2 separate regions of the Homo sapiens genome follow, and region 2 is linked to region 1. The links come from fine-mapping of genetic effects on gene expression. Tissue or cell type: monocytes after Pam3CSK4. Region 1 holds a variant in brackets; the other region holds the start of a gene. All regions are shown on one strand. Distances are from middle to middle.

The links.
Region 2: it holds the start of GRAMD1B, and the variant in region 1 is fine-mapped to the expression of GRAMD1B in monocytes after Pam3CSK4 (Quach 2016, PIP 0.91).

What each region holds. Positions count from the first base shown.
Region 1 is chr11:123,447,126-123,462,936 of GRCh38, reverse strand. The region is part of intron 1 of GRAMD1B (GRAM domain containing 1B); the gene reads right to left. Among named protein-coding and RNA genes, the nearest start is that of GRAMD1B, 25 kb to the right of the region's middle. The variant G/A (reference allele first, on the strand shown) is at 8,534.
Region 2 is chr11:123,421,546-123,437,356 of GRCh38, reverse strand. It overlaps GRAMD1B (GRAM domain containing 1B), which reads right to left and starts at 7,088. Exons shown (of 20, transcript NM_001387025.1): 1 at 6,191-7,088. The coding sequence starts at 6,564. LOC124902776 (a long non-coding RNA gene) reads left to right here and starts at 6,143. Exons shown (of 2, transcript XR_007062928.1): 1 at 6,143-6,410; 2 at 8,541-12,281. RefSeq lists silencers at 6,461-6,510, 6,621-6,950.

The sequences.
Region 1 (15,811 bases):
GGTAAGCTAAGAAACAGGGATTTCTTTTTTTTTTTTTTTTTTTTTAATTTATTTTTTTATTGATAATTCTTGGGTGTTTCTCACAGAGGGGGATTTGGCAGGGTCATGGGACAATAGTGGAGGGAAGGTCAGCAGATAAACAAGTGAACAAAGGTCTCTGGTTTTCCTAGGCAGAGGACCCTGCGGCCTTCCGCAGTGTTTGTGTCCCTGATTACTTGAGATTAGGGATTGGTGATGACTCTTAACGAGCATGCTGCCTTCAAGCATCTGAGAAACAGGGATTTCAGTTTAAGGTTTTTTGTCCCTGAATTCTTTATTCTTTCACCTTAAGCACACTCCAGTGCTGGAGCGTAGCATTCACTTGGAGAAGGGGTGGGTGGCAGGGATAACCTCACTGATGAGACTGAAGGGACTCTGAGCTTGGGCTGGGACTCAGGGGCTGAGCTGAGCTTGAATGTTCACTCTGCCACAAGTGTCAGCCGTCTCTGCTTTGCAGGTGGCAGCCCTCAGCTAGAAAGCAAGAGCATCTGGGAAGTCCAAGGCAAGTGAAAACCTTGAAACAAGAAGTAACGAGTCTGCTCTGCCCAGTTTGAGGCAGTTTGTCAGGGGATGGCACCTGCCACTGAGGTCACAAAGCCACAGGTGAAACCATAGAAATAAACAAATGACTGGCCCGGCACGGTGGCTCACACCTGTAATCCCAGCACTTTGGGAGGCCAAGGCGGGCAGATCACGAGGTCAGGAGATCGAGACCATCCTGGCTAACATGGTGAAACCTCATCTCTACTAAAAATACAGAAAAATTGGCCAGGCATGGTGGCGGGCGCCTGTGGTCCCAGCTACTCGGGAGGCTGAGGCAGGAGAATGGCGTGAACCCAGGAGGTGGACCTTGCAGTGAGCCAAGACCGTGCCACTGCACTCCAGCCTGGGCGACAGAGCAAGATCCCATTTCAAAAAAAAAAAAAAAAAGAAATAAACAAATGACCATACCAGAAAAAAAAAAAACCTGCACTTGAAAGTAGAGCTATCTTGGCCGGGCGCAGTGGCTCATGCCTGTAATCCCAGCACTTTGGGAGGCTGAGGCGGGGGTATCGCATGAGGTCAGGAGTTTGAGACCAGCCTGGCCAACATGGTGAAACCCCCGTCTCTACTAAAAATACAAAAATTAGCCGAGTGTGGTGGTGGACACCTGTAATCCCAGCTACTCGGGAGGCTAAGGCAGAAGAATCACTTGAACCCAGGAGGCAGAGGTTGCAGTGAGCCGAGATCACGCCATTGCACTGCAGCCTGGGCAACAAGAACGAAACTCTGTCTCAAAACAAAACAACAACAACAACAAAAAGTAGAGCTGTCTCAACAACCAGCTGGGGAAGAAACCATAGACAATCCAAAAAAGACAGAGCAGTGTGCCAAGGCATAGGCCAGGACTTCCCAGAGCTAGAGCCAGGGCTGGAGAGACTTCTAGGAGGCCAGTGACGTTTGGCCTGCAGCCCAAGGGGGAGTCTTTGGGAACCAGAGAGGCCAGCACCACCTCATTTAGCCACAAGGACAGGAATCACAAGGGCTCGGCCAGCTGCAGACAGAAATGCTGGTGCCCTGGGGGACTCTTAGGAAACAGTCCTGGTAGCAGTGCCAGCTTGGCTTTTCTGCCAGCTGAAGTCAACATAGCTTGATTTAGGAGCCAACCTGGAGTCAGTCGGGGCAGCTGATTCCCCAGAAAGACGACTGAACTGACAAGAACATTTTAGAAGCAGCCCAGGCAACAGGAGCACTGGTCCATTCACATCTGATTGAAGACCAAACTCAATTAAGACTCAATATGTTTTTAAGACATTTTTTATGACTATGGCTTCCCAACTGGCTATTAATTTTGCTATCACCTGTTTCCCTCTAGTCAACACAAGCCAAACCTCTTAAAAAGCCAAAAATATGTGAATTCCAAAAGGTCACGAGGTGGGAAAGACACAGAGAGCCTTGTGTTCTTCCTGGACGGCCCAGGAAAGAGGCGCCCAAGGAAAGGAGAAGCTGATGCACCTGGGAAGGCAGATGGATTCTTGGGTCCTAAAGGGACAAAGGAAACGTAGGAGCAGGGGATTCATGCAGAAACCCTATCAAAGACCAACCGCTCTAGTGACCTCGGAGCTCAAGGACAAGCAGCCCGCAAGCTGTGCTGTTTTCCAGAAAGAATCCTTTCAGCTTCCTGCCTCCCCTTCCCTGCCCCACTCCTGTCCGCCCCCCAAATCCTGCTGACCCAACCACCATCCAATTTCATTTGCCCTTAGCCCCGGGAAAAACTGGCTTATGGTAAAAGCATTATCTTGTTTTTTCCAATTGGAAGACATAAAAACAGTCCTAACCAAAAACTCTGGTCATTAACACTCACAGAGTGCCCTGGGGGGCCTGGGGAGAAATCCCCGCATTGACTGGGGCTGGAGTCACGGTGTCTAGGTGTAATTGCCACAAATCTGCCCAATCACGCTCCTGGCCTATATCCAATTAACCCTCTTCAAGTTCAGTCCCGGAACCCACTGAACTTGGACAAGAACATAAAAAGGATTTTGATGGTCCACAAAGTAGATAATTCATGTACTTTAATTCATCTACTATATTTTCTACTATATTCATCTACTATAATTCATCTGTTTCCACAATGCCATTTTCCACTCAGGATTAAACTCCATGTCTTCTCTGCCAAGCACTTTGACAGCCTTCTGATAAGCTTGTCATACCACACATGGTCACTTTTCAGTAGCATGGAGGCAACAGGTACTGGATAATTCAGGATATCGAGCAGAAGAAAACAGAAGTTGACTAATCCACAAACCATTTATTTTTAGTTTGAGAATTTTAATGAAACACACACACACGTATGTCCAATCACACTCCTGGCCTATATCCAATTAACTCTCTTCAAGTTCAGTTCTGGGACCCACTGAACTTGAAGGGACAAGGGTGAGGACAAGGACATAAAAATGGACAAGAACATAAAAAGGATGTTGATGCTCCATAAAGTAAATAATTCATTCACTCAGAAAACACTTTTTGAATGGCAATCTGTACACAGAAAACAGATGAGAGGCAAGCTTTGGGTGAGCCAGGTGTCCAGTGAGAAGGTAGCAGAACAAATTTACCTAAGACCCAGCCCTGCCCTCCAGAACCTCAGTGTGTGTTTAGGAACAGGACTTAAAGTATAAAGATAGTTGTGAATAACCAGTTCACATCATAGGGGAAGGGTCAACTAACAGGTATTTGAGTACCTAGTATATGGATTTTTTGCACACTATCTCACTTAAAAGTCAGTATTTGAAGAAAATAATATTCTTCTCTCTCTTTTTTATCAAACTCAATTCTTTTATCTTCAATTCCTTTAAATCATGAATATGGCCGACCACAGTGGTGCATGCCTGTAATCTCAACAATTTGGGAGGCCGAGGTGGGTGGATCATCTGAAGTCGGGAGTTGGAGACCAGCCTAGACAACATGGCAAAACCCCACCTCTATTAAAAATAGAAAATTAGCCAGGTATGGTGGCTCACACCTGTAATCCCAGCTACTCTGGAGGCTGAGGCAGGAGAATTGCTTGAACCCAGGAGATGGAGGTTGCAGTGAGCCCAGATCATGCCACTGCACTCTCGCCTGGGTGACAAAAGCAAAACTCCATCTCAAAAAAAAAAAAAGAAGATAAGGGTTCATGAAGATTTTCCCATGATCAGCAAATTAAAAAAAAATATATAGAAGTGTCTTATTTCTTTGCAATCAAATACCCCAATCTGCCCTAACTCCAAGGGCTGGTCACCATAACTATAACCCATCTACAATGCAGTGCATGTTCTTTGTCATCTACACAGCCTCTGCTACAACAAGCTCCTAGAAACACTTTTCCAAACTCATGGCTAGGAAGGCCATTGTGTCTGTGATTGTCTGAATATTCTGTTAACTCCGCTGTGTATTACGGTGTGCATTAAGCATTAAAGTGATTGTTCTCACTGAGCTCAGACTCAGAGTTGGGGGGAAATTACAGGAGCACAAAGGACTAGCCCCAAAAGAACCTCCACTTCAATCACCAAGCCATACCTGGAACTACCCATTTGCAGACTTGAAATTTGAAAATAACCCACCCGTATACACACTCTACATGTTGAGAGATACTTGTTCTTATCACTCAGAATGCTCCCATTCTCCTGGAATTTTTTGCCCATTACTCACATTGGGGAGTATGAAGAGGAGGGGAAAAAAAAAAAAAAACAAAACAGCCTTTCACTGTTTCCTTATCTAGGATACTGTTCATCCTATAAATCAAAAAAGGGATTTGCATCAAATTCTTTATGACCATTTTCTTCTCAGATTGATTTTAGTGAGAAGGTAATTGTGATGGTTAATTTTAGGTGTCAGTTTGACTGGATTAAAGACTACCTAGGAACCCGGTAAAGCATTATTTTTGGGCGTGTCTGTGAAGATGTTGCCAGAAGAGATCAGCATGTGAGTCTGAGTGGACTAGGTGCGGAAGATCCGCCCTCATTGTGAGTGGGCACCATCCATTCTGCTGGGGGCCTGGAAAACAAAAACTGAGAAAAGGTGAATATGTGAATGGAACTGCCAGAGTTGGATTATATTCTTCCTCTCTCTGTCCCTCAGTGGCTCTCTGAGTTCTAGGCCTTTGGCCTCAAACCGAGAGTTACAACATCAGCTTCTCTGGTTCTGAGGCCTGCAGACTTGGACTGAGCCACGCTACCAGCATCCCAGGGTCTCCGGTGTGTTGTGGGACTTCTCAGCCTCCATAATCATGTAAGCCAATTCCCCTAATCCCCTCCCCTCTCCTCTCTCTCTCTCTCAGAACTCCAACTAGGTTCTGTGTAGCATACATACGCACTTATCGTGGAGTCATGCATAAAGTGGTACTCATCTATTTAAAATATGTGGCAGCCAGGCATGGTGGCTTACGCCTGTAATCCCAACATTTTGGGAGGCCGAGGCAGGAGGATTCCTTGAGCCCAGGAGTTCAAGACCACCTTGGATAACATAGCAGGACCCTGTCTCTACAAAAAAGTGGAGAAATTAGCCAGGTGCGGTGGTGCATGCCTGTAGTCTCAGCTACTCAGAAGCTGAGGTAGGAGGATCACTTGAGCCCAGGAGGTCGTGGCTGCAGTAAGCGTGATTGCACCAGCGCACTCCAGCCCAGGCGATAGAGTGAGACCCCATCTCAAAAAACAAATACATAAAATAAAATATGTGGAAAATAGAGCACGGAGCACAGTGGAGCAATAGCACCAGAGCCAGGCTCATAAGGCTGGGTCCAGCACTGACTCTGTCATGGACTCCGTAGAACACAGAGCAAGTTGCCCCATTGTTCTGAACTTCAGTTTGCTTATCTGTAAAATGAACAGAGTGTGCTAGACAATCACATAGGCCCTGTCTAGCCTTAAAAGTCCCATGACGCTAAGCTAAGAAATCTTCCATTAAGCCTGTTTGAAGGCTAAGTGGAAGACACAAAGATTGAGAAAGAAGGGAGTTGCTGGCTATTCTAAAACACGTGAACTAAACCACGAGGGTAGGCTGACGCTGGCTGGACAGTGGGGAAAGAATAGCAGTCTAAGAACAAACGTGGTTTAGAGGCAGCTAACAGAGACACAGAAATGTGGCTTCCTGGTTCACTTCCTGTATGCTCATTTGATAAGTGTGTCCTTTAACTGTTACTCTCTTTCCAGGTTATCATTTTATAACAATCTCTAATTTTATTAATAAAATCATGAGCCGATACTTCACAGCAGGAAGGGATTCGAGGGATAAACTGTTCTAATTCTTTCTTTCTTTCTTTCTTTTTTTCTCAGAAAGGGTCTCTCTCTGTCACCCAGGTTAGAGTGCAGTGGTGCCATCACAGCTCACTGCAGCCTTGACCTCCTGGGCTTAAGCAATCCTCCCATCTCAGCCTCCCGAGTACCTGGGACCACAGGCATGAGGCATGTGCCACCACACCTAGTTCTTTCTTTCTTTTCTTTTTCTTTTTTTTTTTTTTTTTTGAGACAGAGTCTCCCTCTGTCGCCCAGGCTGGAGTACAGTGGCGCCATCTCAGCTCACAGCAACCTCTGCCTCCCAGGTTCAAGTGATTCTCCTGCCTCAGCCTCCACAGTAGCTGGGACTACAGGTGTGCACCACCACACCTGGCTAATTTTTGTATATTTAGTAGAGACGGAGTTTCATCATTTTGACCAGTCTGGTCTCAAACTCCTGACCTCAAGTGATCTGCCTGACTCAGCCTCCCAAAGTGCTGGAATTATAGGCGTGAGTCATTGCGCCTGGCCACACCTGGTTATTTTCTGTATTTTCTGTAGAGACGAGGTCTCATGACATTGCCCAGGCTGGTCTCAAATTCAGGGGCTCAAGTGATCTGCCTGCCTCAGCCTCCCAAAGTGCTGGGATTATAGGCATGCGCCACCACACTTGGCCCCAATTTTTTCTTTTTCAAACAGGAAACCAACAGCCCAAAGAAGGTAAATGACAAGTGTAAAGTCACAGAGGTATTTAGTAGCACTGCAAAGAATAAAACTCGAGTTTGCTGACTCTCGGGGCTCTTTCCACAACACCAATGCTGCCCTTAGAGAACAAGAATGTCAAACTCCTGGTGGGCAGAGAAGGCATCTGAAACTTTTTTCTTAACCCTCTGGTGCTTCTGCTGACAAGAAGGATAACTGTTAACAGTTGCTCATTCTATAAAATGGATATGCCATTGTTGAGTGTGTTGTTCTTTTTTGTTTTGTTTTGTTTTTGAGACAGTCTCTCTCTGTCGCCCAGGCTGGAGTACAGTGGTGCAATCTTGGCTCACTGCAACCTCCCTCCACCTCCCTGGTTCAAGCGATTCTCGTGCCTCAGGCTTCCGAGTAGCTGGGATTACAGGTGTGTGCCACCACACCCAGCTAATTTTTTGTATTTTTAGTAGAGACAGGATTTCACCATGTTGGTCAGGCTGGTCTCGAACTCCTGACCTCAAATGATCCGCCCACCTTGGCCTCCCAAAGTGCTGGGACTACAGGAGCGAGCCACCCCACCCGGCCTGGTTGAGTGTTTTCTATATGCCAGGCTGTTTTCTAACCACTGGGAACACAGTAATAAACAGATGGGGCAAAGGTCCCTGCTCTCAAGGACCTCAAATTCTTATGGTTTAGCAGAAGGGATGCAGAAATGAGAGACAGATCATCAACAGAGAAAAATAAAAGAAGATGATAATTTCAGAAGTACAAAGTGTTATAAAGACAATAAAGCTGAAGAATGTAGCCTCAAAAAAGCTAAAAAATATGTTAAGGGCAGAGAGTAAGTGGCAGAGCCTGGACAGAATCCATGCAGATCACTCCAGAGTCCGTGGCTTTGCAAACTATGCCGTATTGCATGGTGAGCGCAGCAGTTCGATAGCAAGTAGAGGATGAATGATCAATTGAGTGGAATGCATATCATCAGAAGGGGTTCCAGTGTAATTTTAATTTTGAAGGGAATTCACAAGCAGATTCTTGTAAAATCTGGCCAGGCGCGGTGGCTCATGCCTGTAATCCTAGCACACTGGGAGGCCGAGGAAGGCAGATCACTTGAGCCCAGGAGTTCGAGACTCCTTACTATGTTGCTAGGACAACATAGTAAGACCCTCGTTTTTATAAAATAAAAAATAAAAATAAATTCTAGTGAAATCTGTTTTGATTTTAGTTCATCCTAAGGAATCTCTACCTAGTCATAATAGACACAAAGATTATAGTTTAATCAAATATTTTTCCCTCTCATCTCTATATGTTGGGCAAAAAATAGACTTAAATGTTCAATTTCCTACTTCCCTAAATATTAAGTAGGGCTCTTATACATCTTACATGAAGTACATATTCAAACAATACTTGTCATTGATGTTGATGGGGATAAAACATCACAAAACTAGTAAAAGACTAAGTGCTCATAAAACATCCTTCAGATATAACAAGTTAAAGCATTTCTTTAAACATAAGAATTACATGCACCTAGTCCCACAAATACAGCCTCACTAAAGATGGAATAAGCATTTTAGGGGACATGTAAAACCAGTCCTATTCCCACATATGTCTCCTATCTCTCAGAGGCAATCTTTAAATCTTACCTTGGTTCTTCTTTACAACCTCAGACTTTTCTAAGAAAAGTTCTCACTCTGTATCTTCTCAGTAGCATCAAGAGCATCTTCTCCCCTAATTATAACCCACTGTCACTCATTTCAAATTTGGAAGACACTGCTGCCCTCTATTCACTTAGGGCCCTCCGCAGAGCCTGGTGGCAGTACTGCTTAAGCTGACATCAAAGTTTCATGAAGCCATTTTATAGGAAATTCAGCACAAGGCAAGATATGCAGAACATCCCCATGGCTAGTTACTCATCCCCTGCCCTTAACCATGAGAAGGGCAGATCAGGTTCCAAAAGTGCACCAGGAAATACTAACAGACAATAGAGCCTGCGTTGGCTGATCACGGCACTAACCACTCTCTAAACCGCTGTCTTTTCCAGGTCTGCCAACCCCAAATGACTCAGCAAA[G/A]GTGCCTGGCAATGACGAAAAAACAACGCAAGCCCTGGGGCCTGTCCTTCAGATCAGATAAGCTTGGCCCCAAATGACACCCATATGAAAACACCTCCTTCTCTTAAATTTAAAGGGGAGAGGGACAAAGGAAGTAACCAGGAAGTGAGTATCTACAGGATGTCAGGAAATTGGAGAGATGCCTTATCTTATTTCATCTGCAAACCAGTCTTCAAGGTAGGTATTATCATGATGACCAATGTGTGTAAGAGGAAGCTGATGATGCAAAGCTGCCTGCGGAAAGAACGCTTGTCCCAGTCTGGAATTTTACTCCATGGAAGCAGGATTGAAATTATTACCAGGATAAAAGTCACACTCAGCTGCTGGGAAAGTATTTACCCTGGCCTTGCTAGAGGTGGGGATAGGTGAGGAACAGTGTTGGCATGGGCCATTATCAACGGGATTTTACAAAGATACAGAGCCTTGGAAGAAATAGAAACACATTTCTGTTTCTTAGCTGTCCCTGATCACCCTCGAATTCACAATCAGTAGCGACCTGGGACTTCAGATGCTCCATTGCTCAGCCCTCTTTGGGTTTACTTTGTCCTCCCCTATAATAAAACAGGCAAGATCCAGAAATCTCCCTGAGGTGCATAGGTTTGAGTCCAATTGCTGGTATTAAAACAAGTATCATATGCAACAGGCAAATTAAAATTTCTTTCTGAAATTTGAGTCAGTATTCCAGGACCAAAAAGTACTTAGCCTGCCCTAAGGAATATCCAGGTTTAAAAAATACATACCTATATATTGCCAGGCACGGTGGCTCATGTCTGTAATCCCAGCACTTTGGGAGGCTGGGGCAGGAGGATTACTTGAGGTCAGGAGTTCAAGACCAGCCTGCCCAACATGGCGAAACCCCGTCTCTACTAAAAATACAAAAATTAGCTGTGTGTGGTGGCGCGTGCCTGTAATTTCTGCTACTTGGGAGGCTGAGGCATGAGAATTGCTTGAACCCAGGAGGCAGAGGGTGCAGTGAGCCAGGATTGCACCACTGCACTCCAGCCTAGATGACAGAGTGAGATTGTCTTAAAATAAAAAGATATATATACTTGCATATACATATATACTTATATTTAATATATATTGATGTGTATTAGATATATACATATATTTATTAGAAAACGTTTATGTTTCTGCATGTATATATTCCACTGTATTTTTCAATTTAAGCTGGATTAGAGGTTTGGAGTTATTTGCACACTGACAATTGTTTCTTCCTAACCTTCTAAGGATACTGTTGAACTGATCAAGACCATGAATATGAGTCATTTCCAAACTAGCCACCCAAAAAGGCCTTAAACTAGTCATTAATTAAGGTAAAATGCTCTAGAACTCTAGATTCTCCATGGTTATGAGGAACAAGGTCAGAAAAATGCACTGAAAGTAACACAAAATTATCTAAATATTGAATTCTTTACTTCAGTGGTGCCTGTGAAACACAAGACCGAACTTTCACTTCCCTACCCCTTCTTTCCTGGAGAAATGAAAGGGAAGCCTGGTGGTTCTACATCTGGCAAAAAGGGAGAAGAGAAGCAAAAGGCCTGGTTAGAAGAGAAGCAAAAGGCCATGGCCAGAATTCCCTAGTGAGCAAAGCCCCAGACATCTTTGCCTATTCTGTGAAATGAATGAAGTAGACCTAATATTGAGAGTAAATAGCTTCTGTTTTCCAAAGCAAAATGTCTATCCAACTCCACTTATTAAGGAAGGTCTTTTTTTTTTGAGACAGAGTCTCACTCTGTCACCCAGGCTGGAGTGCAGTGGCACCATCTTGGCTCACCGCAACCTCCACCTCCCAGGTTCAAGCAATTGTGCTGCCTCAGACTCCCGAGTAGCTGAAATTACAGGTACCCATCACCACGCCTGGCTAATTTTTGTATTTTTAGTAGAGACAGGGTTTCACCATGTTGGCCAGGCTGGTCTCGAACTCCTGACCTCAGGCGATCCACCTGCCTCGGCCTCCCAAAGTGCTGGGACTACAGGCATAAGCCACCATGCCTGGCCAAGGAAGGTCTTCTACCAGAAAAAATGTCCTTCACAAGATCTGGCTAATTGCCAGGATTACCAAATGTAACAGTTACTGCTGTCCTCTTCTTAGATGCACTTGTCACATTTTTATTATATGTTTTTCCTTTAAGCTCTGTTGGACTTGACTGTCACATTTTAAATTTTTACATTTGTTCACAATTACTTGCACTGACTGCCTAACGGATGGTCAAAAAAATCTGCTGTCGGACTGGGTGCAGTGGCTCCCATCTGTAATCCCAACATTTTAGGAGGCCAAGGAAAGAGAATTTCTTGAGGCTGGGAGTTCAAGACTAACCCGGAAAACATAGTGAGACCCTGTCTCTATAAAAATCTAAAAAATTAACTGGGCATGGTGGCACGTGCCTGTGGTCCCGGCTACTCAGGAGGTTGAGACAAAAGGATCACTTGAGCCCAGGATTTAGAGGCTGCAGTGAGCTATGATCATGCCACTGTACTCCAGCCTGGGCGAGAGAACACCACCATACATACATATATATATATAATCTGCTGTCAAACAAATGAATGAATAATAAATAAACTAGACTACATCTTTCAAGAGAAGAAGCCAGCCACACCTCAGTGGCCAGCACATAGCAGCCAAGCAACAAGTGCTGGCTGGCGGGATTTGGACTCTCCTCTCTCTGGCAGCCTGACTGTGTAATGTGTCCCTCCAAATGGGAAGGGGAGCAGGGGAGGTAAAATCCAGTCAAAGCTGTTCACAGAAGCTGCTGCTTTCAAACAGTGGAGCACACCGAAACTGCTAGTTAAAATGTTTGGTCTTTATGTTTCATTTCCTGTGGATTTGAATTACCCACACTGTCAGCATGTATCCATAAGCCTCAGTATAATGTCAGATACAACACACGTATGGTACAACAAAGAAAGGGCCCTAAATTAAAAGTGACATGACACAACCTCTTTTTGAGTCTGGTTTCTAGCATTACTTAGCTGTATGGATGTGGGCATATTTCAGAATCCCCATTTCCTTAAGTGCCAGGTGGGTCTACTCATTACATCTGCCCCACAGGATGCAGGAACAAATGAGGTAATAGATTGTCATGCCATACGCTTGTCACTGGACATCCTGGTGTGTGCCAGTGCTACAGCAATCACAAAGAATAATTATACCCTGTCCCTTCCGTGGGAGAGCCCATGGCCTGGTAAATTGTTTTGAAAAGGTAAAGTGCTACTCAAATTAAGAGATTGTGATAAATTGCTATTGTCTGCATCATTTTCATTTGTGTCCTTGTGAGTGCCATTCTCTGCCACCCTGATGGGACGCTCCCAACAGCAGGTATCAGTACCCCCTCTTTCCTCTCTACCTTCCTTCTTGGAGCCCAGTTTAAGGTACCGCACTCTGTGGTAGCTTAATAAATGGCATTCCCTGCCTGTTTTCCAGGCTTTCATTACACTGGATAATAAAGGGCCATTTCTGGCAGCTCTTTGGCTCTTGGCTTCTGTTAGTGCCAAGAGACTCCCACAAACACCAGAAGAGCAACAGCTTTGACATCTGACAGCTGCAGAGAGACCCAGCTTAATCCTGTCATCTCCCAAGGTCTTAGATGATGTCAGAGCACCAAATGCATCTGCATTCCAAAGTGCCCACACAAATCCAATGAAGTCCCACTATCAGTGGGAAGAGAGTCAGCTTCCCACATTTAGCCACCAGCTCCTCCCCGCTCCCATATCGCTCTTCAAAGCAGTATGGAAGACACTTCTTTTACAACTCTTGATTTCCAAATTTTAGAAAACAAACTAATTCCCTTTCAGTGATGTGGCCAAATAATTCGCTTTTAAACAAATAGGGACCAATATTGCACTGATAATTTGCTGACAGTCTCTCTACCCCACTAGAGAAGCCCCTGTAGGGCAGACTCTATTTTGTTCACTATTATTCCTGGTGTTAGGAACGGTATCTGGCATGTAGTGTATGTTCAATAAATGTTTGTTGGATTAGTTAGTTGGGGAAAAAAGGTGGAAGGATGCATATATTCCAAAATCCTCTTCCCCTGCAGGAGGAACAACTGTTGCCCTGACCTGGAATCAGAAGACGAGAAAAAGTATTGCATTACCATGGCAACCACAGCTCCAAAAATAAATGCTCTTCAAAACTGTTATGGGTCTTTGGTGGGGAAAAAAACCTAACTGCTGTTTGCAGACTATACCAGGGCCCTGGGTCCACCATCAAACAAAATATTGTTCCCAATGTGCTTGTGCTCTCTGGAACCTCATTTTGGGAAAGACTGATCACTCTCCACCTAACTATGCCAAGTTTGGCTCCCCTGAATAGAGACTACCTTTAGAACGGCAGTCTCTGGTTCAGGTGTGGTGACTCATGCCTGTAATCCCAACACATTGGGAGGCTGAGGCAGAAGGATCCCTTGAGCCTAGGAGTTCAAGACCAGCCTGGGCAACATAGCAGGATCCTGTCTCTACAAAAAGTAGAAAAATCTAGCCGAGCATAGTGGCACATGCCTGTAAACCCCAGCTACTCAGGAGGCTGAGGCAGGAGGATCACTTGAGCTTGGGAAGTTGAGGCTTCAGTGAGCCATGATTGTGCTACTGTGTTCCAACCTGAGTGCTGGGTGACAGAGTTAGACCCTGTCTCAAAAAAAAAAAAAAAAAGCCAGGCATGGTGGCATGCATCTGCAGACCCAGCTATTCAAGAGATCAGGATGTCAAGGCTGCAGTGAGTCAATATCTCACCAGCAATCTCCACCCTGGGTGATATATGAAAAAATAAAAATAAAAAGCAGTGTCTGCTCTCTGGGCACTTACTAAAGACTCAGAACCCAGTTAAAACCAGAACAGAAACCAACAGGTTAAAGACAGACAAACAAGCCAATACATAATAGTACAGATTTACATAAATGGCATATGAAGGGGTAATTATTCAGCTTCAAGAGGACTCCTTGCTTTGCAAAATGATTTATCGTAGAATTCCATGAAAATCGAATTTCCTTAGAGGCTTTCATCATTTGATTATTCATTCATTCCCTAAACACATGCTTACTGAGCTCCTACCATGTTCCATGCAAAGAGCTTAGCAGGCACTGAATAAAACAAACACTGAATAAAATAAACTCTGCCTTCAGTGTGTAGGATCTAATAAACGATACAATGCGAGCACGTTATCACACTCCAGTGCAGGATGCTTCAGAAACACAGACATAATGAAGACCTCAGTCAAGAACCATTCCCTAGAGGAAAGGCTAACTAAACAAACGAAAAGGCCTTACGGTGGCAAAGTAGGTCAGTGTTATGAAAAAGGAATTCTGTCTGACGGAACAACGTTGATGAAACCTGGAAATAAGAGAGCATCCCATTCATGGAACTAAAAGGTCAGACTGGCTGGAGGCAGAGCACACAAGAGCAGCAGGTGGATGAAGCAGGAGGGGAACAGAAGTGAGGTTATGAAGACCTTTCTGGCTGCAGAGAGAAGAAGCACAGGAGAGGGGCTGTGATGGAGTCAGGATGCTTGTGTAATACACGTGAGAGCCGGCTATGGTGATGGAGCTGAGAAGGCAGGCTTGAGGAACATTTGCTTGGAGGGAGAGAAGCCTCGTGAAAACAAAAAGTACCAAGCCCCAATGTAAGTAACAGAATGGAGGGAACTGGTTTGAAGGGAAAAATAATGAGTTCAATTACAAAAAGACAAGCTGAGTTTTGAAGAACATCGCAGTGGAACTGCCCATTAGTCAGGTGGAGGTATAAGCCTAAGGCCCAGGAAAAATATGAGGTCTCAGACAGGAATAATTAAAGCCAAGAGAATGGATGAAATCGCCCCAGGACAGTATATGGATTTAGAAGTAGAAAGTGGAGGCTGGGCATGCTGGCTCATGCCTGTAATCCCAGCACTTGGGAGGCCAAGGCGGGCGAATTGCTTGAGACCAAGCGTATGAGACCAGCCCGGCCAATATGGCGAAACCCCGTCTCTACCAAAAATACAAAAGTTAGCTGGGTGTGGTGGCACACACGAGAATCGCTTGAACCCAGGAGGCAAAGGTTGCAGTGAGCCGAGATTGGGCCACTGCACTCCAGCCTGGGCAACAGAGCAAGACTGCCTCAAAAAAAAATAATAAAAAAATAGTACAAGGGGGAGGGTGAGAAAGAGAGTGAGCGAGAGAAAGGGTAAAAGGAGGAAAAGGAGGAGAAATAAGAAGAAACCTGGGGCCAGGCTCTGTGGACCACACCTGGAAGCCCAATACTTTGGGAGGCCAAGGCAAGAGGATTGCTTGAGTCCAGCAGTTTGAGACCAGCCTAGGCAACATAGCAAGACCCTGTCTCTCTCTCTCTCTTTTTTTTTAAATACATATATAAAAGAAGAAACCTGGAGTCGGAATCTTAAGCAGGCCAACACTGAAGGGACATACAGATGAGAGCAGCCCTTAAACTATAAACACTAGGTTAAGATAACTATTGTGGGAGGTTAAAAAAAACAAACTAGGTTTACAGGCAGTTTTTCAGCACCCATCAATAGATCAGAAAAGCAACATCTCATAAATAACCAAAGAAGGAATAAATCACTCTTCCAGCCTCCACTAACCAGAGAAGCAGACTTGGAGGCCTCATAGATAGGCACAAATGTCTTTGCTTTTGTAAACTAATATATGCATTAGCATAACTCTTCAGACACATGTGCTTAATTTTGTCTAACAAGATGAAACAGAAATGTACACTCTCCATTTTATAATCTCACTGAGGCCCAGAGAGAGTGAGTAATCTGCCCAGGACCACACAGCGAGAAAATTAGCAGAACCAGAGCCTCCAACCCATGCTGCCTCAGCCTGTCTCTAGGACTGGTGCTGGGGCAGTCGTCCTAGGAAAAACTGTCACCCTGTCCCCACAGATGGAGGGGCCCAGCCTGAGCGTCATGACTCACTGCCTGAAGATACGGCTCCTTCCTGGATGAATATGGGCTCCCTGAGAAACACAGTAAACTGAACCCTTGTTCTGGTTGCCGGAGACCTGTATTCTAGATCCACCTCTGTCACTGACCAGCTTCATGGCCCTAGACTTCTCAGTTTTTCTGAAGGTGGAAATAATTTCACAAATCCCATCTACCAGGATGACTGGATTCTCTGAGAGACCCGTCTGTCTGACAGAAACAGGTGCTGACAGGTGGCAGCTGAGTGTGAGTGAAATAGGTGAAGATTTGGTAAAATCAAGGCCCTAAGCCCCTCTTCTCCTCTCCCACCCAGCAGATCCTGTCCT
Region 2 (15,811 bases), 26 kb after region 1:
ATTTCTGAGTTTTCTGAACCTAGCAATTCAGAGAAGGGTTCCAATCCTCAGTTTGGGTTCTGAACAATCACCACAACCAGTTTTGGGCAAGGAAGTTAGAAAGACATGTGAGTATTAATGCTAAGAGCCTGCCCCATCAACTGCAGGCTACGCTATTCCCTGAGCTCAGAGGGCAACATGGCCAGCAAAAAAATTGTGCCATCTTGATAGACTGGATTAAGAAAATGTGGCACATATACACCATGGAATACTATGCAGCCATAAAAAAGGATGAGTTCATGTCCTTTGTAGGGACACGGATGAAGCTGGAAACCATCATTCTCAGCAAACTATCGCAAGGACAAAAAACCAAACACCGCATGTTCTCACTCATAGGTGGGAATTGAACAATGAGAACACATGGACACAGGAAGGGGAACATCACACACCAGGGCCTGTTGTGGGGTAGGGTGAGCGGGGAGGGATAGCATTAGGAGACACACCTAAAGTTAAATGACGAGTTAATGGGTGCAGCACACCAACATGGCACATGTATACATATGTAACAAACCTGCACATTGTGCACATGTACCCTAAAACTTAAAGTATAATAAAAAAAAATTGTGCCGTCTTATGTTCAATGGTAGTTAAGATGATGCTTTGCAGTTAGACCACTGAAAGAAAAGAGCAAGACTCCAGGCCTTCACCTCCCCACGCTTCCTCCCCACTACACGGAACAGCAGAAAGTAGTTGCCTCGAGCAACACTTTGAGAGTGTCTCTCCCAAGCTCCAGAATCTACGACAGCTCCTCATTGAATTGACTTCACTTTGCCTAGGAAGCGCTCTGCATATAGGATCTCAATACCTGTTTGATGACTGAGTGATTCATTGAAATTCAAACTCTTTGGCATAAATCACCTTCGGTCTGTCAGCCTCACCACCTTCATTTTTCCACATTCCTCAACAAGATCACATTTGGTCATCCATCTCTATCTTCAAGCCAACACATCCAAACTGCTTTCACCTATAGGCATTTGTTAACCCTTCAAAACTCAGCTCTCTATAGATCAGTGGTTGTCTAGGGCTGGGGAAATGGGATGGAGAGGGTGAAGGTGCTAGCCAAAAAGTATGAGTTTCAGTCAGGCACAGTGGTTCATGCCTGTAATCCCAGCACTTTGGGAGGCTGAGGTGGGCAGATCATGAGGTCAGGAGTTCAAGACCCACCTGGCCAACATGGTGAAACCCTGTCTCTACTAAAAATACAAAAATTATCTGGGCGTGGTGGCGAGCTTCTGTAATCCCAGCTACTCAGGAGGCTTAGGCAGGAGAATCACTTGAACCCAGGAGGCAGAGGCTGCAGTGAGCCGAGATTGAGCCACTGCACTCCAGCCTGGGTGAGAGAGGGAGACTCCGTCTCAAAAAAAAAAAAAAAAAAAAAAAGTATGAGTTTCTTTGTGGGGCAACAAACGTTTTTAAAAACTGACTGTGGTGATGGTTGTACATAGCTGTGAATATATTAAAAACCACTGAATTATGCTTTAAATAGGTGAATTGTATATTATATAAATTATATCTCAATAAAGCTGTTTTTAAAAACTCAGCTCTGTACTCATCTCCTTTTGGAAATTTTCCCACACTCATGAATAAAAGAATTTCACTTTAAACAGTAGAGAAAAAGGAATCATTTATTTACTCATTATTAACTCATCAACAAACATCTATAGATCTATAGATCACTGTAAGAGGTCAGGTACAGTGCTGTGACGATACAAAGATGAACATGATTGGTCTTGGAGTATTCCAGTGAACACTGGAAAGTTAGTAAGCCATGCTGTCTTTACCATTTGTTCCACTTCTTCCTTCCTAGGGTTTAAGGAGAAGAAAAGGGTCTCCTAATCCTCTTCATATTTTCAACTTTGTGCAGTGAAAATCCGCAAGCTTGAGCTTCAAGTCAGTGACAAGTAAAAAAACAAACAAACAAACAAATAATGAAACAAATAATGAAAAAACAAAAATTAAAAGAAATCCACAAGCTATGGCCCTCTCAGCCACTTAACTTCTACCACATCACGCTGAATTTCATAGCAAGCCTGAAAGGTGTTTTTCTCTCTTTTGGAGCAGGAGATTTGGGGTGGGGAATGTGGAGACGTCATGCTGGGCCTGGTATGCTAATCCTCCCTAATCCAGGCCAGAGCAGAGCCATTTTCCAACCATCATTTCCAAATCCTGAATTGTGTGAGGAGGCTCAGGTGCTGCTCCAGGACACGTGAGTATGTAACCTCATACTTTTAAGCAAACATCCATTCCATGTGAGAGACTCACAGAGTAATGAAATAAGCCTTCACCCTTGCACAGCAAGAGGAAGTTTGCAAAACATTTTCACATTCACTACTCTTCAGACTTCCCATTAACCCACAGAGATCCTCTTCCACAAATGAAGAAGGTGAAACTCATGGAGGTAAAGTGAAATGCTCAAGCTAATCTCCATAGCTAATCGATGATAGAACTTAAATATACAGCTGTCTTCTGATATTAAGTCCAATGTTCCCTGCACTCCATTGCCTCTAAATGCCAATTCTATTTTCTTTTGGAAATGGAGTCTTGCTCTGTCGCCCAGGCTGGAGTGCAGTGGTGTGATCTCAGCTCACTGAAACCTTTGCCCACAAAGTTCAAGCAATTCTCATGCCTCAGCCTCCTGAGTAGCTGGGATTACAGGCGCGCACTACCATGTCCAGCTAATTTTTGTATTTTTAGTAGCAACAGGGTTTTGCCATGTTGGCTAGGCTGGTCTCGAACTCCTGGCCTCAAATGATCTGCCTCCTCAGCCTCCCAAAGTGCTGGGATTACAGGCATGAGCTACCACACCCCGCCACCAATTCCTTCTCAGGCCACTTGGTGGTATCTACGAGCACCTATTCACTTGATTGCTGCTTTTCTTGGAAGGAAGCCTTTCATCTTCGAGGCCTAAAAATGATGGGGCTTTGTTTTACACACAATCCAAATAGATTCCAACAGAAGGCAGTATAACAGTAGCTAAGAGTAGATGTGAGTCACACGAATTTGAATTTGAATCCAGAGTCTGCCTTTTCAGATACATATGTTCTTGTTTTTTGTTGGTGGTGGTTTTTTTTTTTTTTTTTTTTTTTTGGAAACGGAGTCTCACTCTGTTGCCCAGGCTGGAGTGCAGTGGCGAGATCTCGGCTCACTGCAACCTCCACCTCCTAGGTTCAAGCAATTCTCCTGCCTCAGCCTCCCGAGTAGCTGGGACTACAGGTGTCCACCACCACACCTGGCTAATTTTTGTATTTTTAGTAGAGACGGTGTTTCTCCGTGTTGCCCAAGTTGGTGGCTAACTCCTGAGCTCAGGCAATCTGCCTGCCTCATCCTCCCAAAGTGCTAGGATTACAGGCGTGAGCCACTGCGCCCGGCTGATACATAGGTTCTTCTAATCCAAAAGTCACCACTTAAAATAACTGCCTGAACTACATCTAGATGAAAATCCTGCCAAATTTTAAGGATATGTCCCCAAATCCAACAAAATGAAGGTTCCACTACACACATAGACAACTCTCGAAACCAGGAATACCTTCCTAAATCTAACCAAATCTACTGTCATCCCCATCCTAGCCAGCAATGCAAGATTTTTTTCTTCATACACACAAAGACACACACACACACACACACACACACACACACACGCACGTAACATTTTAAGCGTTGGGGGTGGGGGTCTCACCATGGCTGAAATGCAGTGGTTATTCACAGGCACCATTATAGCCTACTAAAGCCTTGAACTCTTGGGCTCATGTGATCCTCACACCACAACCCAAGTAGCTGGGAATACAGGCCATGCCATTGCACCCGGCTCTTTTTACCATATTTTGTCCTCAGTATATATGGCAGAATCTCAAGATCAAAAGAAGGTCTCTTTTAGTTTCTTTTACATTGGAGGGAAAAGCCGACAAGCCATGACAAACTACTTTATTTATTTATTCATTTAAGATGAAGTTTCGCTCTTGTTGCCCAGGCTGGAGTGCAATGGCGCGATCTTGGCTCACTGCAACCTCCACCTCCCGGGTTCAAGCAATTCTCCCGCCTTGGCCTCCCGAGTAGCTGGGATTACAGGCACCCGCTACTACACCTGGCTAATTTTTTGTATTTTTAGTAGAGACAGGGTTTCACCATGTTGGCCAAGCTGGTCTCGAACTCCTGACCTCAGGTGACCCTCCCGCCTCACCTCAGGTGACCCTCCCGCCTCAGCCTCCCAAAGTGCTGGGATTACAGGCATTAGCCACCGCCCCTGGCCTGACAAACTACTTTAGTTCAAGGTTAGCTCCCACCAAGCTTGCCCCATTTCCCTCTACTCTGTGAAAAGGGTAGCAGGATGAAGTACCAAACAGAAAGAACTTCTATCCCCAGCGTCCACAAAAATCCACGGAACAAAGCTCTGTATCTGCACCTGCTGAGAGAACCATGCTCAGTTGTTGCAAACAGAAAAGATAAACTCTGGAAGGCCCAAAATGCCCATCTTCTGCATAACGGATCCTACTCCTCAGTCCCCACCCCGCAAAGACACATGGCTCATCCTGTTTCTCCTGCCATTCTTCATATTGTTCCCTTCAGCCAGTCTTATGCACCCAACCTCATTCTTTTCCTGCTGTTTTCTACTACCCATCTGTATTTGTCATGGTGTCAGCCTCTTCCTTCAAGAAGTCTTCCTCTACTTCTCCAGAACTCTCTCTTTTCTAGTACAATCAGTACCACACAGCACAGTATGTTTTCCAATGGCTCCCACAGGTCTTCAATTTTTTTTTTTTTTTTTGAGACAGAGTCTCACTCTGTGGCCCAGGCTGGAGTGCAGTGGCACAGTCTTGGCTCACTGCAGCCCCTGTACCCAGGTTCAAGCGATTCTCTTGCCTCAGCCTCCCAAGTAGTTGGGATTACAGGAGCCTGCCACTACACCCAGCTAATTTTTGTACTTTTAACAGAAATGGAGTTTCGCCATGTTGGCCAGGGTGGTCTCGAACTCCTGACCTCAAGTGATCCACACGCTTCGGCCTCCCAAAGTGCTGGGATTACAGGTGTGAGCCACTGTGCCCAGGTGTTCATTTCTTATACAAGCCTCCCCTCATCTTCCTTCTCAGCCTCTACAACCCCTTACTCTACCTATCCTTCCCCCACACCCTCCTCAACATCACCACTATTAGCTGTTACTAGACTGAGCTCACAGAAATATTCAGTAAGTACTTACTGAATTGAAATCAATGTAATTGAACAGATTTGGAGAAGGAATTCCAGGGAAAGTGATCAATGACTCAGTTGCTCCGCACAAGAACACAAATCCATTAAGAGACAGGACCCTAAAGTCTCAAAGTAAATATGTAGGATTCGTGGTACCGATGAACAAGTGAGGACTCCCTGCCCTCCACCAGGCAAGGGGCTTGGCTCAGACACAACTTCCTGAAGCAGCAGTCCTGACCAGGGCTGTGTAGAGCTGCTCTAGGGCGCCCTGCAGCAATTCTCTACGTGAGGGAAGCTCAACCTTCTCCCATTACCCAGATGCCACATTGACCTAGGCAAAAAACTAGCTGGTACAAACCACAGTCTTGTAGGTATCGATGTCTAAAGACTCTGATATGGTAGGAAATGTGACTCACTCAATGTCAATATTTCACTTCCACACAAGTGAGCCAGTTAAGGCAATCCGGTGTGGCCAAACATAAAATAAGATTGAAACGGAGTCCTGAAATATAAACCACTTAACTGTTCTCTGGCCTTTTACTATCTCCTTCTGTAGAAAGGGAGCCATAGTAATACCTACCTCAGAGAGTTTGCGTAGGGATGAAATCTGGAGGTACATGAAGTGCGCAACATAGTGGCCCGCACATGGTAAGGGCTCAATAACTATTAGCTGTTATTATTTTTATTATTTATTTCGCTGCGAGGATCAAGGGAGATGGAATGCAGCGTAAAGCCCCACGTAAACGTGTCGTGCAACATGAAGCCCCTCACCCTGAGTTGGGGAGCGGGTGGCACGCGTGGAAGCTGAATGCCACCATCCCTGGGACCAGGCGCAGCGCCCTCCAGAAGCGCCTCTGGTGACGGGCTCCTGTTCTCCCCCAGGACGTTTCCCCCAGAATGCCCCGGGGCCCTGGACGGCTCTGGAGAGGACGGGAGGGAAGGGAAGGAGACGGGCGGAACGGGGACGTACCTGCTTTCACTGCACTCCTTCCGCTCCCTCACCCTCAGCCACTTGCGGAGGAGGAAGCGTTTTCGGCGCGGGGACGCGCTGGGTGTGGAGCAGTTGGACCACGGGGTGTCCTCGTCGCTGGAGGGCGTGATCTCGATGGACGGCAGCTGCAGGAACTCCTTGCCGGGGGCCAAGACGGCGGGCAGGTCCCGGGCCAGCCCGGCCTCCAGGCTCTGCTCCTGTACGTTCTTCATGCGGCGCATCTTGAAGCGCCGGCGGCGAAGCGTGGGGGTCGACGAACTGGACCAGACCGGGCTGCCCTCGGGCGCACCCTGCGGCTCGGGCACCTGCAGGGCGGGCAGCGGCCGGTTCTCCATCATGTTGGCCGCCGGCATGGGGGCCGTCGCCTCTGCGCTCCCCCTGAGCCCTCCGCCAGCGGCCTGGTTCGCGTCTCCCTCTGGCTGTTCCCCACCCTCGGCCCCGCGGCACACTCCCCAATCCTGGGGCCGAAGGAACAAGTTCCTTTCCCGGAGCGCAGCGAGGAAGGGACGCGAGGGGACGCGGCGTAGCGCGCCGCCGCCCGGAGTCTAACTTTTCGGAGCGCGCGTCCTCCGGGCCGTCAGCCGCCGGCGAGGCCACCCGGGAGGGGCGGGAGCCGCCTGCCAGCCACTCGGCAGCCCTCCTGGGGCTCCCCTCGCGCGCCCGCTTGTTTTTCTTCCGCTGCGCTTCCTCGCTTGCTGGCGTCTTTGCCTTAGCGGGACTCGGCAGCCAGGGGCCCCAGGGGGCGGTGCAGCAAACTCTCAGCGGTTTGCGTTCAGCAGACCAGGTTGGGGAGCCGGCTTGGCGCTGCAGGGAGGTAGAGAGCGGGAGGAAGAGGCAGTGGTAGGAGGGAAAGGGAGAGAGAGACAGAGAGAGAGAGAGAGAGAGGAAGCGAGACACTGGATAAAAACAAAAAAGGAGGAGGAGGAGCGGGGGCTGGGGGCGGGGTGAGGGGGGCTATCCTGAATGGGCTAGCACTGGCAGCGACCGCTAGTGTAACTGTACACGGATTCCCTCGGGGAGGGACTCGACCTCCAAGTAAAGGCTGCTCCAATCAGCCTACTGAAATAGGATCACAAACCAAACTTTCTCAGGGCAACGATTGGCCAGGCAACTCCCATTAGTCGAACTCGGCTATTTCCTTGGGGGTGGGGGGTGCAGAGAAAGGGGAGTCAATGAATTCAGTCCTCACTCTCTCAGGCCACCCATGATACAGGGTTGAAGGAAAATGAGGAGACTTTTCAACTAGCTCTTGTCTCCTAAGAAAGGCAGTTTAAATTATTTGGGGGCGTGAGTAGTGGCACTGCAGGCCGGAGTATAGTCAGAGGAGGAAAGCAAGGTTGCTGGAGGCTGCTTCCAAAATGACAAGCTGAGAAGAGGACAGTTCTCCCGTGGCGGCGTGAGCTGAGGATACCAGACATGACATACCAAGGAAAGACAGACAACAGGGTCTGAGAGACAAAGGACACAGGACCAGTAAGGAAAATGGGGCCTGAACCCTGTACATGAGCCAGCTGCCAGTACCATAGCCGCGTCCCTAGCAAAGAATGAAATGAGGAGTCGGTGAGCACCCACAAAGCAATGCATCCAACAGAGCCCCAGGGAGTCGAGGGTACCCCCCCTTACATTGCTGAGGGCTGATTCAGTTCTGCTTCAGCCTGCCATGGACTGAGTCACAGAATCCAGTATGTCCCCATGTCATGGAACCTAGGAAGTCTGGTTCAGTCCTGGTAGCATCCCAAGATGTGCTGAACCACACTCACTCTCTAGACCCAGGCCCTAAGAGATCATCAACCCTAGAACCGATCCATCCTATTTAGGTGCTCTCTGTGGGCACTGAGTCTAACCCAGCCCAGCTCCTAGAGCAGGGCTGTAGCAGCCATTCTCCTCCTTCAACCCCAGCCCAATGCATTTGTCTCTTGGGTCAGTAACTGTTTTGTTTTGTTTTGTTTTTAAGAGACAAAGTCTCACTCTGTTGCCCAGGCTGGAGTGCAGTGGTGCAGTCATGGCTCACCGCAACCTTGAATTCCTGGGCTCAAGCTGTCCTCCCAGCTGAGCCTCCTGAGTAGCTGGGAGTACAGGTGCGCACCACCACACGCAGCTAAGTTTTATTTCTTTTTGTCGATATGAGGTCTTGCTATATTGCCCAGGCTGGTCTCAAACTCCTGGCCTCAAGTGATCTGCCCACCTTGGCCTCCCAAAGTGCTGAGATTACAGGCATGAGCCACCATGCCCAGCCTGGTCAGTAACTTTCAAAGAGATCATGAGAAGCACCCAAGAACATACCATGAAGTCCACAATCTGATCCACCCTTCTTTTCTGCCTCTCTCAGAGTCCAGTTTCCATCTGGGAGCCAATGCCCAGCTTCCGTGCCAGGACAAAAGTCACATTTCACAAGTGTCCCGAAGCTGAGGAAAATTCACATCCCTAAAGATCACAAGAATTCACTGCAAGTAAATACATCCCTGCAGTTCAGCAAGACATCAAGGATGACAGCTGGCTATGGATCTACCAAGCTCTGCAATGACACTTGTCAAGTATGGAAAAGCTCAAGGCATCCTGACATTACACAACTTTTGAGAGGCTGGGAAACCAAGGGAAATATTTCTTCCTCAGGGAGAGAGATACTGCGGCTGAAGAGCCAAGGCCAGGCCCTCCCATAAATGACTCCCTGGAATGTCAGCCCCCGTTTCTGAAATCCAGCCACTGGCCCTCTCAGGAGTGATTTGGTTTCACTCTACTTTAACTCCTGGACATAGCACAGAAAGCAGAAACCCCTTGCCATCAGGTGTCAGGCCTGCCAAGGTCACCTCTTCCGGCTCCAGGGATGCTGAGGAGATTGCACTGTAACTCCAAACTTCAGGATCGGGAGCTAAGCCAAGTTCCACAGAGTTTGTTCACTGCCTTGTACTTCCTCCAAGGACGAGTGTTTTGCAAGGGATCTGATAACTTCCCAGTTCAAGGAACCTGAGTTTTGGGCGGGCTCTTGACATAGAAGATGAGGGTCTCAGGGGCTTATGGGAAGAAAGGAAGCCAGGACACCACCATTCGCTTGGAGGCCAAAAACACAAAAGGATGGTCCACAAGACAGGGGCCAGAAGATTCTATGGGCAGCTTGGGAAGAGGGAGAAGAAACAAGGGAGGAAGCTTTAAGTTTGTTCTGGGCACTCTGAATTTAAGTGTATACCTCTTACAAGGAAGAAAAGCCACCAGCACCCTCTTCCCACACACTTCAGCCACTTTTCCCACTCACAGTAGATTCTGGAACTGAAATCCTGTGAGATTTAATTCAAGCCTTGGGCACAGCAGTGGCTAAGAGTGATCATTTACATTTCACCCGGCCTGAGGGAAAACCTCCAAGCAGGAATCTAAAATGTTTCACTTGATTGGGAAGCAGATACCCTGAGCTCTCTTAGCCTGAACGCTGTCCTTACTCACTTGCACCTGCAGTCCCTTCTTTTTTTCAAGCCATAACCCTTTTGACCGTTAAAACCCTGTTCAAAACACATCCTTCAGCCCTTTCCAGCTGTTTCTGTTGCCCATGGCTCTGGCAAGTAAGATAATAAATGAGGCACTGCTTTGAAATATGAAATGCCCTACAGCTGTGAGCCAACATTACTGTTAAGACTATAAGCTCCTTGAGAAAAGAATCAAGTTTCTCCTTCCTTTAATTCTCTCCAGTATCCTGTGCTTGTTATGTGTATGGTGACCTTTACACTTTTGGAAAGAGCTTTCATACATCACACTGTGTCTTCCCAGCGGCCTTTACAATTGATGAAAGTGGGACAGAGAGATTCAGTAGTTTATCCAAGGTCACAGATAAATGATGATGGCTAATCAATGACAAGGCCAGAATTGGAACTCATGCCTTCTGAAGCCAGTTTAGAGGCCTCCAAAAGTGTAGAGAAACAATTTCTCAAAGTAGCTGGTGCCAACATCAGAACCAAAGAGTTTTCATGCCCTGCGTCAGAATCTCAGCGATTGCACTTGCTCCCCAAGTCTCCCCACTCCCATATTTCTTCTCTCCAATATTTGGCTCTCAGCGACCGCACAGTTCTCTGTGAAACAGACCTCACCTTTGCCCCCATTCCCCGCTTCCCCAGACAGGTGGTAACCAGAACAACCCAGCCTCCCCTTTCCCCACCTGCAGCCAGGCCTCTGACTTTAAATGAAAGGAGGTCATATTACCAAGCAACTGTTGTTTATTCTCAGCTGCACAAGCTCCCTTTTCCTACAGACACAAGACACCCAACACCTGTCTATTACTTCTGGAGACTCATAAACTACTATTATTATTCAATTTCCAGGGGAAAACTTTAGTGAAACATAGTAGCTTCCAGACTAGATTTCTCCTGGGTACACATCCAAGTAAATGTGAACTGGAAGGCGCTGGCACCCCGGACACCTTATTGCACCTGCTCCAGGATGCCAAGGCAGGGAACTCCCAAAGACACAGGAATGTCTCCCCACAACACTGTTGTTGCAAGACAGACAATCCCCACTCTCAACACTGGGACACAGAGTCTCTCCCCTACACAACATTCGAACGGCCAATCCCAACGGTTGGCCCATTATGAGGGAAAGAAGCAGGCAGTGAGCATAGAAGAAGTGGAATTTGAGGCTGGCAGGGAAGCTGGAAATACGGACAGAAACGTGGATGATGCTGAGAGCAATGTTGACTGTCTTCAAACACACAATGAAGGATGGCCAGATTTCACTCTGCAGCTCTCATTTTGCTGCTGAGCAAGAGGAAATGCATTTCTGTAGAGTGCAGCATGGGGGATTTGGGATAGATGATAAACATTTACCGAGTGTAAGGCTGGTTAAGGACTGGCCTGAATGACTAAGACTGGGTAGAGAATGGCTTTCTCTGTAGGTCTTTTAAAGGTAACTGGAGCCTACTTAGAGGCAGTGGCAGGAAAGAGATGATCTCTTAAAGGCCCAGCCCACCCTACTACTGTGGGTCTCTAAGACCCAGATTGTTTCTTTTTAAAGTAGAAGCAATTCACTTACACCTAAAACAAAGTCTGTTTGAGCTGACCTGTTACTGGCTCAAAGGCATTTTGATCACCGGATGCTAAACACCTCCCTGAGACCCACAAATAGCTTTAATATCTTGCACTGGTGAACTAGAAATACAGGGATCAATTACCAGGATGGTGCTGAAGCAAGGAAGTGAGGGTTCGGGGATGAAGACAGGAGAAAGAATTGGAGGGAATAACTTAAACTCCTCCCCATGGTATCTCCTTTTGTTTCTTTCACGAGTCCTCCCTTCATTTCCCCAGGGAGGGGCTCACTACTTTAAGAAGGGTCAGAGGATGCTGCACTGAATTGGTGTGGTTAGAGAAGCAGTGTGGAGGAGGAGGCTGGTGCTGGTTAAATACAACCTAAATCAAACCACAGTTGACCAACCACCACATCCAGCTTCTCCTTCCAAGGAAAAAGGGAGAAAATGCTTCAGGACTTTGATGGAGACTCAGTTTCCGAGAATAGAGCCCTGGGCAGTGCTCTCAACCTTGGGGAGTACACAGGGTCAGCTCTTTGTTTCCAACAGCCCTCACAGGGGCCAGGGTGAGCAGTGACGTCACCTCAGGAGAAGGACTGTCACCAGATAAGCCTCCTTGGTTTAATCGCTCATCAAAAGGCTTAGGCGTCAAAGAAGAATGTTTTGCACAATATTTGGCTGCCCTTGTACTTGACACCAAGGATACCAAGGCACAGAAGGACATCATCTCTTGTCCTCTAAATCTTGCAAGGACTTATGTGCAAACCAGGGCTGCAAAAGACTTTCTGAGGTCGCCCCACCTGTCCTTGGCTGCCCATCCCAAGGAAAGCAGGTGGCATGTGCTGGAATTTCTGCTGTTGCTTTCCTCAGAAGCATTGCAAAATATCATCAGCTTATACTAACTACCGACTAGTGATTGAGTGTGCAGACCCAAAATCAAGCCACCTGAGTTTTGGACCTGTTTCCATCACTTGCTAGCAGTTTTATTACGGTTAAGTTATTTAACTTCTCTGCAACTCAGTTTCTCATCTGAAAAATTAAGTAAATAAATAGCATCTCCTTGCTGGAGTGATTGTGAGCATTAGTGCTGTGTAGGGCACTTAGAACAGAGTTTGGCACACAGTAAGTGCTCCATAAATGTTAGCCTTTGTTATGTATAAGTTTCCTTTATAATACCCTTCGTAGGAAACAGGACTATTCTTGTTGATTTTCAACTCAGTTTAATTCTACAAGTAGTTGTTACGCTAGAACACTGTGTAAAGCTCCTTGTTCAGGAAGTCCTTGGGATATAGCTAGATAAATAAGATACACATGGTGCATTGGAGCACATGATCCCTCAAAGCAGAATTAATTAAGTGCAAAATACAAGTGCACAAGAGGTGTGACTGGAAAGATTGATAAATTTTAACTAGAGGAAAAGAGGTAGTCTAAGCAGGTCCTATGGAGGAATGGGTATTTAAGTTAATACTTCAAGTCAGAATTTCAATAAAAAAGAATAGGGTGTTAGCAGTTTGAATAAAAGCATTGAGGAGTGAAAACTCACAAAGAGGTTTTGAAAATAGGAAAAGATAAGTCAGAGCATAGGGTGAGACATACAGGATTAGACAATGAGGCTGGACAAATGAGGGGTCAGATTGCAGTGCAGAAGGGTTTTTGGTTGGTTGTTTGTTTTTAATTAGAGACAGGGTCTTGCTATGTTGTCCAGGCTTGTCTTGAACTTCTGGTCCAAAGGGATCCTCCTATCTCAGCCTTCCAAAGTGCTGGGATTACAGGTGCGAGCCACCACACCTAGCCTAGTGTTGAATTATAGATTTTATTCTTTAGGCAAGGGTTGCTATTCAGATTGGTTTGGGTTTGGTGGTTTTCTTTTTTCTTTTTTTTTTTTTTTTTGGTGTTGGGGGACTGCATTACTAACCTGTATTTGAGAAGCATCAACTCTGGTGACAGCATGAAATTTGAATTGGAGAAAAAAGCAGATGGGAACCATAAAAACCAATTAGGAGACTATCATTCAATCAGCCAATATTTTTGGAATATTGACCATATGAATGGCAAATAGTTCTGGTAAGAGATGGAGAAAATCTGAAATAGGGCAGGGGAAAAATGTGGAATGAGAGGAGATAGGCAAGGAAAAGGAGGAACCTCTGGAAGAAAACCAAGAAACAGCAATCACTGGGAAGCCGAGGGGAGAAAGGAGGCGTTTATTGCATGGCTACACTAAGCCAGGCGCTGTGCTGAGTGCTTCACCCACAAAATCCCAGCTGACTCTTGCAACAACTCTGAGAAATAAATATCAAAAGCCCTATTTCAAGATGATGAGAGATTTTACAAGGTGACTTGCCCAAGTTCACACAGCTAGTAGAAGATGAACACAAATTTAAACAAGGGTCTCTTTGCTTTAAAACTTATACTTTTTAAAGTATACTACATTTCAAAGAGATAAATGATGCTATATCCTATAATGAAGTCAGGCAGAAGAAAGACAGAGATAATTCCATTAAATTTTGTAATTAGGTCATTGATGACCTCTGAGACAACAATTTCAGTAGAGTGGTCAGAGAAGAAATGAGATTGCTATGGGTTGAAGAGTAGTTAGGGAATGAATTAATGGAAGCTGCAAGATTAGACTGCCCTTTCCAGAAATTAGTCAGCAAAAAGAATGAGGGACATCTATTTTCAAATAGTTTTTGAGCATCTACTAAGTGTTAAACATCCTTCTAATGCCTAGAGTTAGACTGTGAAAAGTTACTTGTGGTTGGAGTGGGAGCAAAAGGAGAGAGAGAAGAGAAGAGGAGAGAGGAGGGGAGTGGAGGGGAGAAGAAAGGAGAGGAGAGGGAACATTTGGGGTTGGGGATAAGGTTTTTTTTTCTTTTAATCTGTGTGTGTGTGTGTGTGTGTGTGTCTTATTGTTGGTAGATGTTATGTTTTAGAGGAACAAAATGTGACTGTATGATTATGCCATTTACAATGGAGTTCTGCCTATATCTGCTAAGAAAATTGGAGCTTCGTGGTGTACCTGGTAATCTAGCAAATCAATCAAAAAGTATTTAATCTTCCCAGACTCTAAGCATACCTTAATAGTAAGTAGTGTGAAGTTTCTGAAAAGTTTATGAAAAATGATTATTGCTTCCTACAAATATTTTTTGAATGCCTATCAAAGATGACTCTGGCCTCAGTTGCTTCAAATCTGGGGGAAGGGAGGAAGGAGCAGAAAACCAGTCCAAGAACTACAATTTGGTAAATTTACTTCAGGAGAAATGTGTACCAAATGCAGAGTGAACACGAGGGAGAAGGATCCTGATCCAGAGAGAATTTCACAGAGAAGACAGTACCTAGTCAAGGTTTGAACGTGAGCAGAGGCATTTTCCATGTTGAACAAGGGGGTCATATTTCCAGCAGAAGACCCACATGTGCAGAGGCATTGAGGCATAAAAGAAAGCATGGTTTGATCGCTTCTCGGCCTTTTGGCTGAGGTCAAGTGTAGAAAGCATGGTGTGTTATTGGAATTCCAAAAAGAACATTTGGAGCATAATGAATGTAATGAAAAAGTTTTAAAAACTAGAAAACAGTTGCCTGGTTTGTTCTGATAGGACAGCATGTTTGCCAAACACCAGAGAAATATTAGCCTTTACATATTATGTCAAGCAAAAAATTGGAATTACTTTTTATGACACAGGAAGAAGCTGAAGACGACTAGGCTGTATGGAGGATTTTCATTGGTGGTCCCTGTAATCCAGCTCTGGACAACCATTCCTACTGTACCTTGAGAGGTTTATCTTTCTGCAAACAATGCATCTTGAGGCAGTAACTGTAAACAATTCACCTCTATGCAATTCTGCACTTGGTGCGAACTCTTGCCTCAATGAAATTCACACTGTGGGATGTTCCCACTTTTCAGGAATAGTCCGTTTCCTCTACCCTGCTGCACTGCGCCCCAGAACTGGCCCTAGTGGCAAGCACCCCTGCTTGTATCCCCCCCACATCCCTCTCCTACAAATGGAGACTCAGGACCACTATGCTCACATTTTTGCCTCAAACCAGTGACTACATGGCATTTTAATACTCTGAAATTGAGATTTAGGGATGAGTTATGCTAGGTAATCTACAACGTCTTTTTGTAGCTTTCAGGGTCTATCAGCTGGAAAGGTCTACTTTGCTTTAAGCAATCCTGATGTATGAAAATACAGATTTAAAAAATATCTGAGTCTGGCATGATCCTTCATATAATTCAAATCATTTGTTTTACAGAAAAGATTTATTAGAATACATTGTTTCTTTAAATGTATGAAATTTTAATTCAGTGATAAACTTGAATAAGGCACACTCAAATGAGGAAGTCATTTGTTGCATAACTTTGGGTGTCCAAATAGACATGAAACATGTCACCTTTTCCAGGAAACGAAACAACTTCATTTTCTATGCCCTCAACCACTCCCTGGATGTAAGCAGATACCTCTGGAAGATATATTAATTCTGTCTGACAGTTGGAAATTTTTATAAGCAGTAAAAATATCACCTTCTTCAGGTGACAGAATTATAGCCTGGAAGAAGAATTAGCTATCTCATCCCATGCACATCCTTCTTCTACTCTATCTCAC